Regions from separate parts of the Homo sapiens genome. Here all the other regions are reported to be linked to region 2. Evidence: microRNA targets listed by miRTarBase, many of them from high-throughput screens and not tested one by one. Region 2 holds a microRNA gene; each other region holds the end of a gene's coding sequence.
Evidence for each region. The annotated mature microRNA hsa-miR-4668-5p reads AGGGAAAAAAAAAAGGAUUUGUC and lies in region 2 at 1,756-1,778, opposite strand. An mRNA with a match to its seed (bases 2 to 7 or 8) in the 3' UTR can be bound and repressed. Matches are read on the target gene's strand: a 7mer-m8 pairs with bases 2 to 8, a 7mer-A1 pairs with bases 2 to 7 and ends in A, and an 8mer does both.

Region 1: the mRNA of ACADSB is a reported target of hsa-miR-4668-5p. Seed matches in the 3' UTR shown: 7mer-A1 at 1,467-1,473 and 7mer-m8 at 97-103.
Region 3: the mRNA of TMEM220 is a reported target of hsa-miR-4668-5p. The part of its 3' UTR that is shown has no 7-base or 8-base seed match.

What each region holds. Positions count from the first base shown.
Region 1 is chr10:123,053,274-123,057,520 of GRCh38, reverse strand. ACADSB (acyl-CoA dehydrogenase short/branched chain) reads right to left here. Exons shown (of 11, transcript NM_001609.4): 11 at 1-3,826. The coding sequence ends at 3,756. Among named protein-coding and RNA genes, the nearest start is that of ACADSB, 46 kb to the right of the region's middle.
Region 2 is chr9:111,929,631-111,933,877 of GRCh38, reverse strand. It overlaps MIR4668 (microRNA 4668), which reads right to left and starts at 1,778; the gene lies at 1,709-1,778. UGCG (UDP-glucose ceramide glucosyltransferase) reads right to left here. Exons shown (of 9, transcript NM_003358.3): 6 at 4,200-4,247; 7 at 2,521-2,607; 8 at 1,519-1,708; 9 at 1-1,051. The coding sequence ends at 881.
Region 3 is chr17:10,711,735-10,715,975 of GRCh38, forward strand. It overlaps TMEM220 (transmembrane protein 220), which reads right to left. Exons shown (of 6, transcript NM_001004313.3): 6 at 1,561-3,854. The coding sequence ends at 3,719. It also overlaps the pseudogene MAGOH2P. Among named protein-coding and RNA genes, the nearest start is that of TMEM220-AS1, 16 kb to the right of the region's middle. RefSeq lists a silencer at 1,208-1,408.

The DNA of each region.
Region 1 (4,247 bases), not on the chromosome of region 2:
TGGCTAGTTCTCCGCCAGACACAAATGCAAGATAGATAGTTTTAAAGCTCCTGAAGTCATGGTTATCAGAAGAAAAGCTATAAAGGAAGAACTACAGGGAAAACCTACAACACTCTCTTTGGAAAAATGACAAAATAACACATTTACTGATGCACTAACGGAAGAAGGTAGGTGCATATATTAACTATAACACATAATTAATTTTAACTGTTATTGGTGAATATGCACAAAATATACATACAAATTAGAACTTGATCAATAAATATAAATTCAAGGTCTAGATGCAAATGGGAAGCTCTCTGATGCTGGTAATTTGAACAAGAAGTTTATTGTACTTTCACATGTTTCTAATTCTATGGGAAGAAGTTGGGATTCCTTTTACTAATGTTGGCTTCTGCTCCATTATCTGTAAAGTCCACCTCTTTCACATAATCGCAGAAATTAAAGATGTCCAAGGCCCCTGTAGGGCATTTCATCCATGTCATACTCTTATCAGATGACTGTCTTTTTGTTCTGAAAGAGTGAATGAGTGGGTTTTCATCATCTCTCCATTTGAAAGTCAAGTAAGCTTTATCTCTTCGGATTCAAGGTCTAAATTTGTCCTTGTTTCTTCCTAATATTTTAATGTAATTCCTATGTCAATTGTATTTACACAATTTTTAATATTTAACTCTGATTTGCATTATAGAAATTAGTCCACTTCAATAAACATGAATGTGCAAAACAAAATTACTCTGGAAAAGTCAGGTTTTTTAAATAAACATTATCCTTTTATTAAATTACTAAAATGTTTCTCATATAACAGTAATGATTATTCTAAGCAACTGCATGAGCCTTGGAAGATTCTTCATCTCTAACACATGTTCCTCTTTCAGAAAATATCAAAACTCTCATTTCTCTGTTGTCCACCTTCCTCCTGAGGGGACTCAGGCCACACAGGGGGTCTCTTCTGACTGAGAATCCCTAATACTGAAGAAGTGGCATCACCAGTGATATGGTTTGGCTATGTCCCCACTGAAATTGCAACTTGAATTTATCTTCTGGAATTCCCACATGTTGTGGGAGGGACCCAGGGGGAGGTCATCGAATCAGGGGGGCCAGTCTTTCCTGTGCTATTCTCATGATAGTAAGTCTCATGAGATCTGATGGGTTTATCAGGGGTTTCCACTTTTGCTTCTTCTTCATTTTCTCTTGCCACCACCATGTACGAAGTGCTTTTCACCTCCCGCCATGATTCTGAGGCCTCCCCGGCCATGTGGAACTGTAAGTCCAATTAAACCTCTTTTTCTTCACAATCTTGAGGAATGTCTTTATCAGCAGTGTGAAAACAGACTAATACAGTAAACTGCTAACAGTAGAGTGGGGCATTGCTGAAAAGATAGCCAAAAATATGAAAGCAAGTTTGGAACTGGGTAACAGGCAGAGGTTGGAACAGTTTGAAGGGCTCAGAAGAAGACAGGAAAATGTGGGAAAGTTTGGAACTTCCTAGATACTTGCTGAATGGCTTTGCCCAAAATGCTGATAGCAATATTGACAATAAAATTCAGGCTGAGGTGGTCTCAGATGGAGATGAAAAACTTTTTGGGAACTGGAGTAAAGGTGACTCTTGCTGTGTTTTAGCAAAGAGACTGGCAGCATCTTTCCCTTGCCTTAGAGATTTGTGGAACTTCGAACTTGAGAGAGATGATTGTGAGACGTGGAGTCAAAGGTGATCATTTTGGAGGTTTAAAATTTGACTGCCCTGCTGAATTTTGGACTTGCATGGGCCCTGTTACCCTTTTGTGTTGGCCAATTTCTCCCATTTGGAATGGCTGTATTTACCCAATACCTGTACCCCCATTGTATCTAGGAAGTAACTAGTTTACTTTTGATTTTACAGGTTCATAAGTGGAAGGGACTTGCCTTGTCTCAGATGAAACTTTGGACTGCGGACTTTTGGGTTAATGCTGAAATGAGTTAAGACTTTGGGGGACTGTTGGGAAGGCATGATTGGTTTTGAAATGTGAGGACATGAGATTTGGAGGTGCCAGGGGTAGAATGATATGGTTTGGCTGTGTCCCCACTGAAATCTCAACTTAAATGGTATCTCTCAGAATTCCCATGTGTTGTGGGAGGGACCCGGGGGAGGTAATTGAATCATGGGGGCCAGTCTTTCCTGTGCTATTCTCGTGATAGTAAGTCTCACAAGATCTGATAGGTTTATTAGGGGTTTCCACTTTTGCTTCTTTCTCATTTTCTCTTGCTGCCGCCATGTAAGAAGTGCTTTTTGCCTCCCACCATGATTCTGAGGCCTCCCCAGTCATGTGGAACTGTAAGTCCAATTAAACCTCTTTTTCTTCCTGGTCTCAGGTATGTCTTTATCAGCAGCGTGAAAACAGACTAATACAACCAGATATATATTTTATTGCATTTTGCCTGTTTATAACCTATATTGCAAAACAATAGATTCATTTTTGCCTTCCCAAATATAAAACTATTTTAATATTGAATATGCTTTTTCAAACTCTACAGCCCCCTTCTCTCCCTCATTCCTTATGAGATTTTGATACACTTCTTAATGGGCAAGAGATCTTTTTCTTGAGAATCACTGAACCAAAACCCAATTTCTGAATTATTATTCAGGATAAAGTGCAATAACCATGACTGAAGAAACAGTATTCAATTAAAATACAGAAATTGTCAACTGAAAAATAGTGCATGACAGAATATCCAACACTGTATTGAATATTTTCTGATTATTAAACCAAATTACTTAAACCTTATACTTGAAAACTAATGCACATTGGTTTTTAAAATGACCTACTGAAACCACCATAAAATGTATCTTTTATACAGGTTAATTATAGTAACAAATCATATTGCTTTACATTGTTAAAATAATATTTTCTTCAATCATATGACCTACAAAATTATACCCTTATTTTCCACTGATTCTCATATTTAAAACCAGAATTTTTAGATTTTTCTAAATAAATTTTCATCAGTTTTGACTTCGCTTGCAACTTAGAGTTGAATCTATAAAGTACTGGATAAAAATTGCCTACTATGTAACAAATATTTCCCTGATGCCACAAGATTAAGATTTAATAGGAATATAAACTATTTCTATAAGTAATATTGTACTTCAGATGCCTTTATTTTTCCAAATGATGGGATGAAACTTCTGTATACTCTGAAACTAGAATGATAATATAAATACCCAGCCAGGCACGGTGGCTCATCCCTGTAATCCCAGCACTTTGGGAGGCCAAGGTGGGCGATATCCAGAAGCCAGAAGACCAGCCTGGGCAATATGGTAAAACCCCATCTCTACTAAAAACACAAAAATGAACCAGGCATGGTGGTGCACACCTGTAGTTCCAGCTACTTGGGAGGATGAGGCATGAGAATCACTGGAACCCAGGAGGTCAAGGCTGCAGTGAGCTGAGATCGCGCCACTGCACTCTAGCCTGGGTGACAGAGTAAGACAGAGTAAAAATATATATATGTATGCGTATACAGCTTTAAAAACAGTTTTGGAAAAAAATACAGGTGCTTATTTCCCAAGTTTAAAAGTGGATCTCCTGTGCCTAAGTTAAACAGCCTGAAAAGAGAAAACCAAAAAGGCCAACACCAGGACCCTGACTAAGGGCTTCATTAAAATATTCGAATGCTGTGGAAGTTTATTCCCACGCAAGGCACTTACTCCCAACAAGACACAACCGTTTAAAATTTTACAGCAGTGACACCAGGGAGGGGTCCCACTCCTATAGACGTCAGTATTCTGCATCGATATGCTTTGCAATGGTGTTCAACTGGATGTTGGAAGCTCCTTCATATATCGTACCTTAAGCAAAAGGAAGCAGAAGGAACAATGAGGAGTTGGCGCATGGTTAAGACAAGAAATAGCTCTATAAACATCACCTCTGCGCTTGCTATAAAACAGTTACTAGTCACATCACTTCATGTCCCCTGAATATGGTACTATTTCACAGTAATTTTGACTAAGAGATGACAATTTTCCATTTGGTTTCTCGATGTCCAGGATCAGTATTAAACTGACTAAAGGTGTAAACAAAAGTTGAAGATTTTGATTCTTCAACAATTGATGCATAAGCTCAGACTGTTATTTGTGGCAGTTTTACTAAAAAGCCTGTTGAGGCATTTAAAAAGGCAATTTGATATTTTTTAAAAATATAGAACAATTTTTTTTGAAGGACGAGGTAAGAAAAAAATCCAGCCACATAAATAGAGCCACCAAACATATA
Region 2 (4,247 bases):
ATGAAACCACTCCCAACCCCCCCTGAAAAAATGTTAAGGGAAGACGGGGTGGGCTGGGGGAGGAGCAAGGAAGGAAAAGATTTAGCTATACTAATTACAGCACAGTGATTAACAATGGTTCAAGACAGAACCAACAAGAGTTGGTCAAAAAGATGCCTTCAATACATGGCTACAATTAAAAACCAAACTCAGCCGCTTTTGGTTCATTGCAGTGAGACCAAAAAAATTATCTCTCACAGATTCATATAAATACTAGACTCCAGCTCTTATATCATTTTTTTTTAAGTTTTTCTGTTTGTTTCTGCAAGGCCTAGCTATCTTATTACAATTTATATTTGCTCTGCAACAACTACAAGAGGTAGGCATAAAGCATGAAAAAGTTTCTCAGTTAGTACCTCGCCATGTGTTGTTCACTGCACAAAACCATTCACTTTGGACATGAATAGTCATTCCTTCTATTATCTTCTAAACTCTAAAGCAAAGCTGCTGCCACCCGTAAATGTTCTAAAAGAGTGTACTCACAAGTAAGAAACTTTCTCTACTGAAGGATACTGTCACAGAGTTTGTTGCAGAGCATCTATATATATATTTATTTATTTATTTTAAAAAAATAAACAACAATGATGAACGAACCCAGGTTCCTAGAACCAATTCTCTTGATTCTCTACTTCCACAAAATAAAGTGTATCATTTGGCCAAGACTACAGATGTGTTTTTTTTTTTTTTCACAGATGCAAGTGCCATGCAAAAATAAATTAAAGAACAGATACCAAAACATACATGTGATAAAACTACAGAAGGTAGATTTTTAAAAGCATTTATATAAACATAATTTATAATACTTCTCTTTTTTCCTTTATATACAGTCACAAAGCTGTAGTTATACATCTAGGATTTCCTCTGCTGTACCCCCACAGCGTAATCTGTAGCGACCAGTTCTCCAGCTTATAGTTGGGTCCCATAATGCAGACAAAAAAATGTATATTGTCATGGATTCGCGGATGAACCAGGCGACTGCATAATCAAGTTTTGAAAAACACAGTGTGCCACCCTAGGAATGGAAAAAAAAATTTTTTAATTTCACTCACTGTCAAACTAAAGACAAGGTTAAAAAATTAAATTCTTGGATTTCACTTTTCTAAGTATACTATGTAAAATCAAGTCTGCTTCCTTATGTAATTTAACTGCCATGTTATACCGTTCAAGAAAATGCTAATTGTTAATGAAGCATTAAAATAACTGCTATCTTAATGTCTTATTAGTTTCAATACTCACTGATTTAATTAACTTCATGTTTTTGGAAACTTAATAAAAGCGATTATATAACCAATAGAAAGTTGCAAATCGACTTAAGTTTTGCATCAACATTCCACTAGAGAAAGTCATGTTCAAACCCGAGACTAACCTACAATGGGAAGCTGAAGAATGGCTCAGATACATTTCCTTCAACTTTTTCTAAATTGAAATAGTTCTAGTTCCACCAAGGGACTGCCAACCTTTTCATGCCTATCCACATACCTGGACACCCCTGAGTTGAATGTAGTCAAATATAAACCATGCCAGGCAATGACACATGAAAAATACCATAATATCCCATCTGAACACATGGTGGGCTGCCCATCCAATAATTAAACTGGCAACAAAGCATTCTGAAATTGGCTCACAAATTATTGTAGCAGGAAGCATGTTAATTCGTAGTTTGGTCCACCTGGAAAAACAAAAAGGATTTTCTTTAAAACAATATCCTGGCTACAAGACAAATCCTTTTTTTTTTCCCTCAAATAATCAATTTTTTTACCCTGTGATAGAAAGACCATTCTCTTTAAACTTTTTTTGTTTTGTTTTTTTTTTTTTACTTGAGACGGGGTTCTGCTCTGTCACCCAGGCTGGAGTGCAGTGGCACTCACTGTAGCTTCAATCTCCCAGGCTCAAGCGATCTTCCCACCTCATCCCACCAAGTAGCTGGGACCACAGGTGTACACGCCACCACACCTGGCTAATTTTTGCATTTTTTGTAGAGACAGGGTTTCACCATTTTGCCCAGGCTGGTCTCAAACTCCTGGGCTCAAGCAGTCCTCTCGCCTTGGCCTCCCAAAGCGCTGGGATTACAGGTGTGAGCCACCACACACAACCTAAAAATTTTTTTTAATGACTCTCTTTTCTATTTTTGTCTAGGATGTCAAAGAAAAATGTCTTTAAATTCATTTGTATGGCCTACGCTCTGATGAATACAGATAATAAAATTTAATCAGCACAGAAAGTTAGAAAATAAAGATCAGCATATTAAAAAATTCAGTCTCAACATTTCTCTAATGAGTGCTTTCAGTGTTATACAGCAAATAAAATACATTTAGACATTAAATTTATCTTAAACACAGACGTTAAACTCTATTTTCTGCAACTAAACAAAAATCTTCAACCTTTAGGTACATTCATTTAACTACATTAAACCTGTAAAAATTACCACCCCCCTCCCCACTTTCCTTTTAACGAAGTATAAAAAGAAAACAGTTGATTTACCTGATCATTCTGGATTGAAACTGAGAAATTGAATATGAGCCAGAGTTTTGCATTGCAACTTGAGTGGACATTGCAAACCTCCAACCTCTGAAAATTAAGATAATTAGAAAATAAGTTATGATGATGAACACATGCAAGCGTAACTGGTTATGCATTCAGTAATCATTATAAAGACCAGGCAACTGCCGGTATTCAGGGTGAGCCCAGCTTTCATGATTAGCACATGACTTAAGGTCTACCATACGTATGGATGTTTTAGCAATTATGCTGGCCCGTGACAGCACCATCTAAGAACTAGAAGAAACTGTACCCACCTTACTTTACAATTTAAGAAACTTAAAATGCAGTCATTTTGAAAAAAAATGGAGAGGGCTCCATATTTAATAGATTAGTCTCTGATGACTACTAACCAAACAACAAGACATGTAAACAGAAAGTGGCATTATGGATCTCATGGGAGACACTAGGAAACCATGAACCACATGAACACAATCATGACAGAATTTGTATTTAAAACACACTTCAGTTTTTAAAAAATTTAAAAGAATTCTCACACAAGGCAGTGATCTCCTTTAAAAACAAGTATTTTAGGCTGGATGCAGTGGCTCATGCCTGTAATCCCAGCACTTTGGGAGGCTGAGGCGGGCGGATCACGAGGTCAGGAGTTCAAGACTAGCCTGGCCAACATGGTGAAACCCCGCCTCTACTAACATACAAAAAAAAGTAGCTGAGTGTGGCGGCGGGTGCCTATAATCCCAGCTACTTGGGAGGCTGAGGCAGGAGAATCGTTTGAACCCAGGAGGCGGAGACTGCAGTGAGCCGAGATTGCGCCACTGCACTCCAGCCTGGATGTCAGGGCGAGACTGTCTCAAAAAAAAAAAAAAAAACCAAAACAAAACAAGTATTTTGTGATAGAGAAATGCTAAGTCAGTCATATGAATCTTTCAGTGGCTTCTTAGCAAAGTATCATATAATTCACTGACAAATTTCAAATTTTGAAATGATAGTCTTTAAATTTTCACCTACTAGTTTATGACTGCACTGATAGTTTTAATTCTTCTAAAACACAGAAATTTGTATCTATATAGTAAAAATTCTAAACACAGAGAAACTTACTTTTAATCGCTTTAAAACACATTAATTTGAAAAATGTAGAGGAATCAGAACATTTACCTTCTTCATTAGTACATATCTACAATTCTATAATTAGAATATGAATTACTCTATAAAATTATTGATCTGCTGGGTGTGGTGGCTCATACCTGTAATCCCAGCACTTTAGGAGGCCGAGGTGGGCAGATCACTTGAGTTCAGGAGTTCAAGACCAGCCTGGCCAACATGAAGAAACCCCATCTCTACTAAAAATACAAAAATTAGTGTGCATGGTGGTACATGCCTGTAGTCCCAGGTGCTCTGGTGGCTGAGGCATGAGAATCACCTGAACCCGGGAGGCAGAGGCTACAGTGAGCCAAGATCGCGCCACTGCACTCCAGCCTAGGTGACAGAGCAAGACTCTGTCTCAAAAACAAACAAAATAATAAAATTATTGACCTATTCTGTACTTACTAGCAAAAAAAATAAAATTAAATTAAAAAGCCCTAATCTATAGGTTGAACAAAAAGAATAAACCAACAGAAGTTAGGTAATAAAAATACTATGGCTTCATTTAGTTGTCTTACCGGTCAGCTATCGCTTTGGCCATAAAGTAATCTTCGGCAATGTACTGA
Region 3 (4,241 bases), not on the chromosome of region 2:
GGCCTGGTCTGTTTGGGCCACCAGCCATTGCTGTGTGAAGCTACAGCAGGTAAATAAATTTACACTGACTCCCTTTATACACTAATGGGACATGTTTAACACCGTTTTCATATATGCTAAGGCTTATGTGTAGAAACATTAGATGGCAAATGGGGACTATTCAGGTGTGGAGAAAGTTTGATTCAGGGCCTAAACAACTATAAGAAATAAGCATGCCTGTTGAATACATGGGCACTATAGGGATATAAAGGAGTGTTAGCTTTCTATGGCTGCTGTAACAAATTCCCACAAACCTGGCGACTTAAACCAACATATACTTGTTCTCTTGCAGTTCTGGAGGTCAGAAGTCTGAAATCATTTCCACTTGGCTGAAACCAAGGTGTTGGCATGGCCATGCTCCCTGAGGAGGGTCTAGGACGAATCCTTTTCCAGCCTCCAGAGCTGTACTTCTTGCATTCTGTGGCTCATGGCCCCTTCTTCTGTCTTCAAAGCCAGCAGTGTAGCATCTTCAAATCTTTCTTTACTGTCGTATCATATTCTCTGCTGTCTGTAGTCAGATCTACTTCAGCCTTCGTCTTGCAAGGACACTTGTGGTAACATTCAGGGCCCAACCAGATAATCCAGGTAACCCCCATCTCAGGGTGGGTTAATCACATCTGCAAAATTTATTTTGTGATATAAGGTAACATATATCCAGGGATTAGGACATGTATCTCTCTGAGGGCCACTGTTCAGCTGACCACAGAGGTGACTATAATGTACTCTTGCACTCATAGACCTTACCATGAATTAGACAGACATCCATGATTCAAGTGTGTGAAATTTGCTGTCACACAAAGAAAGGACTGAGGGAACATGGAGGATGAATTTAATTTTGTTCGAAGGGATTGGGGATGACATGCAAAATGAAGAAAAATGGCTTGAATAAGTGGGGAAGAGTATATCAAGTAAAATAGCAAAAGCAGAGGCATTGAAGGATATGCCAAAGTCAGACATGGCAAGTCATGCTGTGACGATTCACCAGAAAGGTGCCGGGCTGGGAGAAGGGGGATGTGGCAAGAAATATGGCAGAAAAGGACAGGCTGGGGCCATATTATGGAGAGCCTTGAATGATGAGCCAAGAGTTAGAATTTAACTTGCCAGATAGTGTGGAGCCCTTAGGGCTTTCTGAGCTGGGGAATACGTGATTAGATTTGTGTGAAATAGAGAAAAATGGAAGAAAAATGTGAAGGTGTGAAAGATTTTAATAATAGAGGCTGGGTATGGTGGCTCATGCCTATAATCCCAGCACTTTGGGAGGCCGAGGTGGGTGGATCACCTTAGGTCAGGAGTTCCAGACCAGCCTGGCCAACATGGTGAAACCCCGTCTCTACTAAAAATACAAAAATTACCTGGGCATGGTGGCAGGTGCCTGTAGTTCCAGCTACTTGGGAGGCTAAGGCAGGAGAATCACTTGAACCCAGGAGGTGGAGATTGTAGTGAACTGAGATCGCGCCATTGCACTCCAGCCTGGGGGACAGAGCAAGACTCCATCTCAAAAAAAAAAAAAAAAGATTTTAATAATAGAAATATTAAATTTAATAATAATACTTAAATTCAATTTCATTAATACTCTTCAAAAGACTATTCCACCAAAAGTGCCTTTTATATGCTTAACTGAAGATGCGAAAGAGACTATGAATAGTCACATAATTTCGTAGTCTGATATGGGAGAGGCATACATGATGAAAGCACATCTTGAACATTACTGTCTTTAAGCACAGAAGTAAACATGACTTGGTCAATGGATAGAGCCCACAGGGAATTTGCAAATGAGTCTGTTTTTTTTTTGCATGTGACTTCAGTAGTTTATTAATACTAAAGGAGTTATAAAAGCCACAAATATGTAAGCAAAATATACACTGGAAAACTCAAATCCTTTATGTGTATTTTACTGACCCTTAAGTTTCACTTTGACTGTTTTAATATCAACTAGATTTGTTTTCCCCCTTTTTACTCATTCAAGTCTTAATCTTAGATAATTTCTCACCATTCAGTGGCCACTGTGCCAATAACAAAAACAAAATACACATACCTCCTTTAACAAATATTTATAGAATATTTACTATAGTAATAAAGACAATAAAAATAGACAAACTACCAGACTCATTTACACTCTCCTAACCTGTGGAAGGCACTACTCGTTCTTTTTGAGTGAAGTATTTCCCAGATCTCTTTCCTAGATCAGAAAAAACAGTATCTGACCACAGAGTTTGATGCTTGTGTATGTAAAATGTTGCCATCTAGATACTTAAATACAGGACTGTCCAACAGAAATGCAATGTAAGCCACGTAAATAAAAGTAAACAGAAACAGATAAAATCAACTTTAATAGTATATTTAACCCATTATAGCCAAAATATTGTTTCAACATGTAATCAATACAAAAAATATTTTCTGTTCTTTTTCTACCATGTCTTTAAAATCCAGTGTATTTTACATTTATAGCCCCACTCATTTGGACACTAAATTTTCATTGGAAATACTTTATCTGTATTTAGGTATCATAAAATTTGCAATTGGAAAATTAGATTCAAATACCCAAGTTGTTCCAAACACAATTGTAAGTTTTCCAATAATCAAGTATCCATTTTTAAATGAAAATGGAAATGAAAAAAAAAAAAGCTCTCCTCCCTAGGATTACTTTGGACATCCATTTATAAAGAATGTATATAGATTTTGACCTTATTTCTCATTTAGAATGTAGTTATAGTCCCTATTGCCTTCTTGTTTGGTCCCTAATTCCTTTATTCTATCCAGCTTCCCTTTCTTTCCAAGACATGCCTGCTCATTTGATTCATCTAGAGTTCTCCTTTAGTTCACTGCACTATGCCAGCTCTGGATAAGATTAGTTTAGGGCTGGACTGGGCATGGTGGCTCACACCTGTAATCCCAGCACTTTGGGAGGCCAAGGTGGACAGATCGCTTGAACTCAGGAATTCAAGACCAGCCTGGACAACACGGTGAAACCCTGCCTCTACAAAAAATTTAAAAAAATTTAGCCGGGCATGGTGGTGCACACTTGTAGTCGTAGCTTCTTGGGAGGCTGAGGTAGGAGGATCACCTGAGCCCCGGGAGGTCAGGACTGCAGTGAGCCATGATCATGCCACTGCACTCCAGCCTGGGCAATAGAGTGGGACTGTCTTAAAAAAAAAAAAAGATCGGGGTATAGCCCTCTCTTGAATGTCTATTTCAGTATATTACCCAATCCCTGCTCCCCTCTATTTTAATCATGGGCAGCCCTCCGTAATCTTTCCAAACACTTTATATCTTCAGAGTGTTCTTACATTATCTAGATTGATCCTTGTTACTGTGTAAGTAAGTAGATCTGGCATTAATCCTATTTTATAGATAAATATCCACCAGGAGGTTTATATATTTGCCCAAATTACATAGTTACAAAGTTAAGTTAGAACTCGTATTTTTAAACTTCTATTCTCTAGCCTTTTCCACTACATTATGACACAAGACCCTGCAGAAAGTCGTCTGGAAAATATCAGACCATCTCTTACTTGTCCCATCCAATCTTACATCGAATTATATGCACCCTTAAAAAGTTATTTGGAGTTTTAAAACTATTAGCCCAAATTACCTGAAATAAACTCCTGGCTTGTTCCCCTAATGTTTATAAAAAATTGATTGAAAATATTCATTTTAAAAACGAAGTTCTTGAATTTATTTAAATTACTGTCTTGCAGTGAGTTGGCCAAGAGGACCGCATTTCCTTGTTAATATATATGTAGACCCATGAGATAAATGGGAAAAGTGTGATTACAATGGCAATAGCCAATTGAATTCTTCCACCAACTGGATTCCTATAAAGACACAAAAATTATTATAAATAAAAATCATGGATTGCTTTGGAAACAAGTATAAAGACTGAATTGATAAAACACATAATTACATTTTAGTATGTTCTCATCTCAGTTGTTTTATTGAAATATAACATTGATTTATAGAAATTATTTATATATATGCTAAATATAAATCCTTGTTTATATGTGTTACAAATACCTTGTCCCATTTGATGTCTTTTGAGGAAGAGAAGTCATTGATTAATTTGACAATGTTAAAGTTGATCTTTTCCTAATGATTTTTGTGCTGTTTAAGAATTTCCCTCACCAAGGTTTTGAAGGTATTCTCTAGAAGTTTTGTTTTGCTTTTTTTAAATTTTATCACATATTTATTAAAGATAATCATTT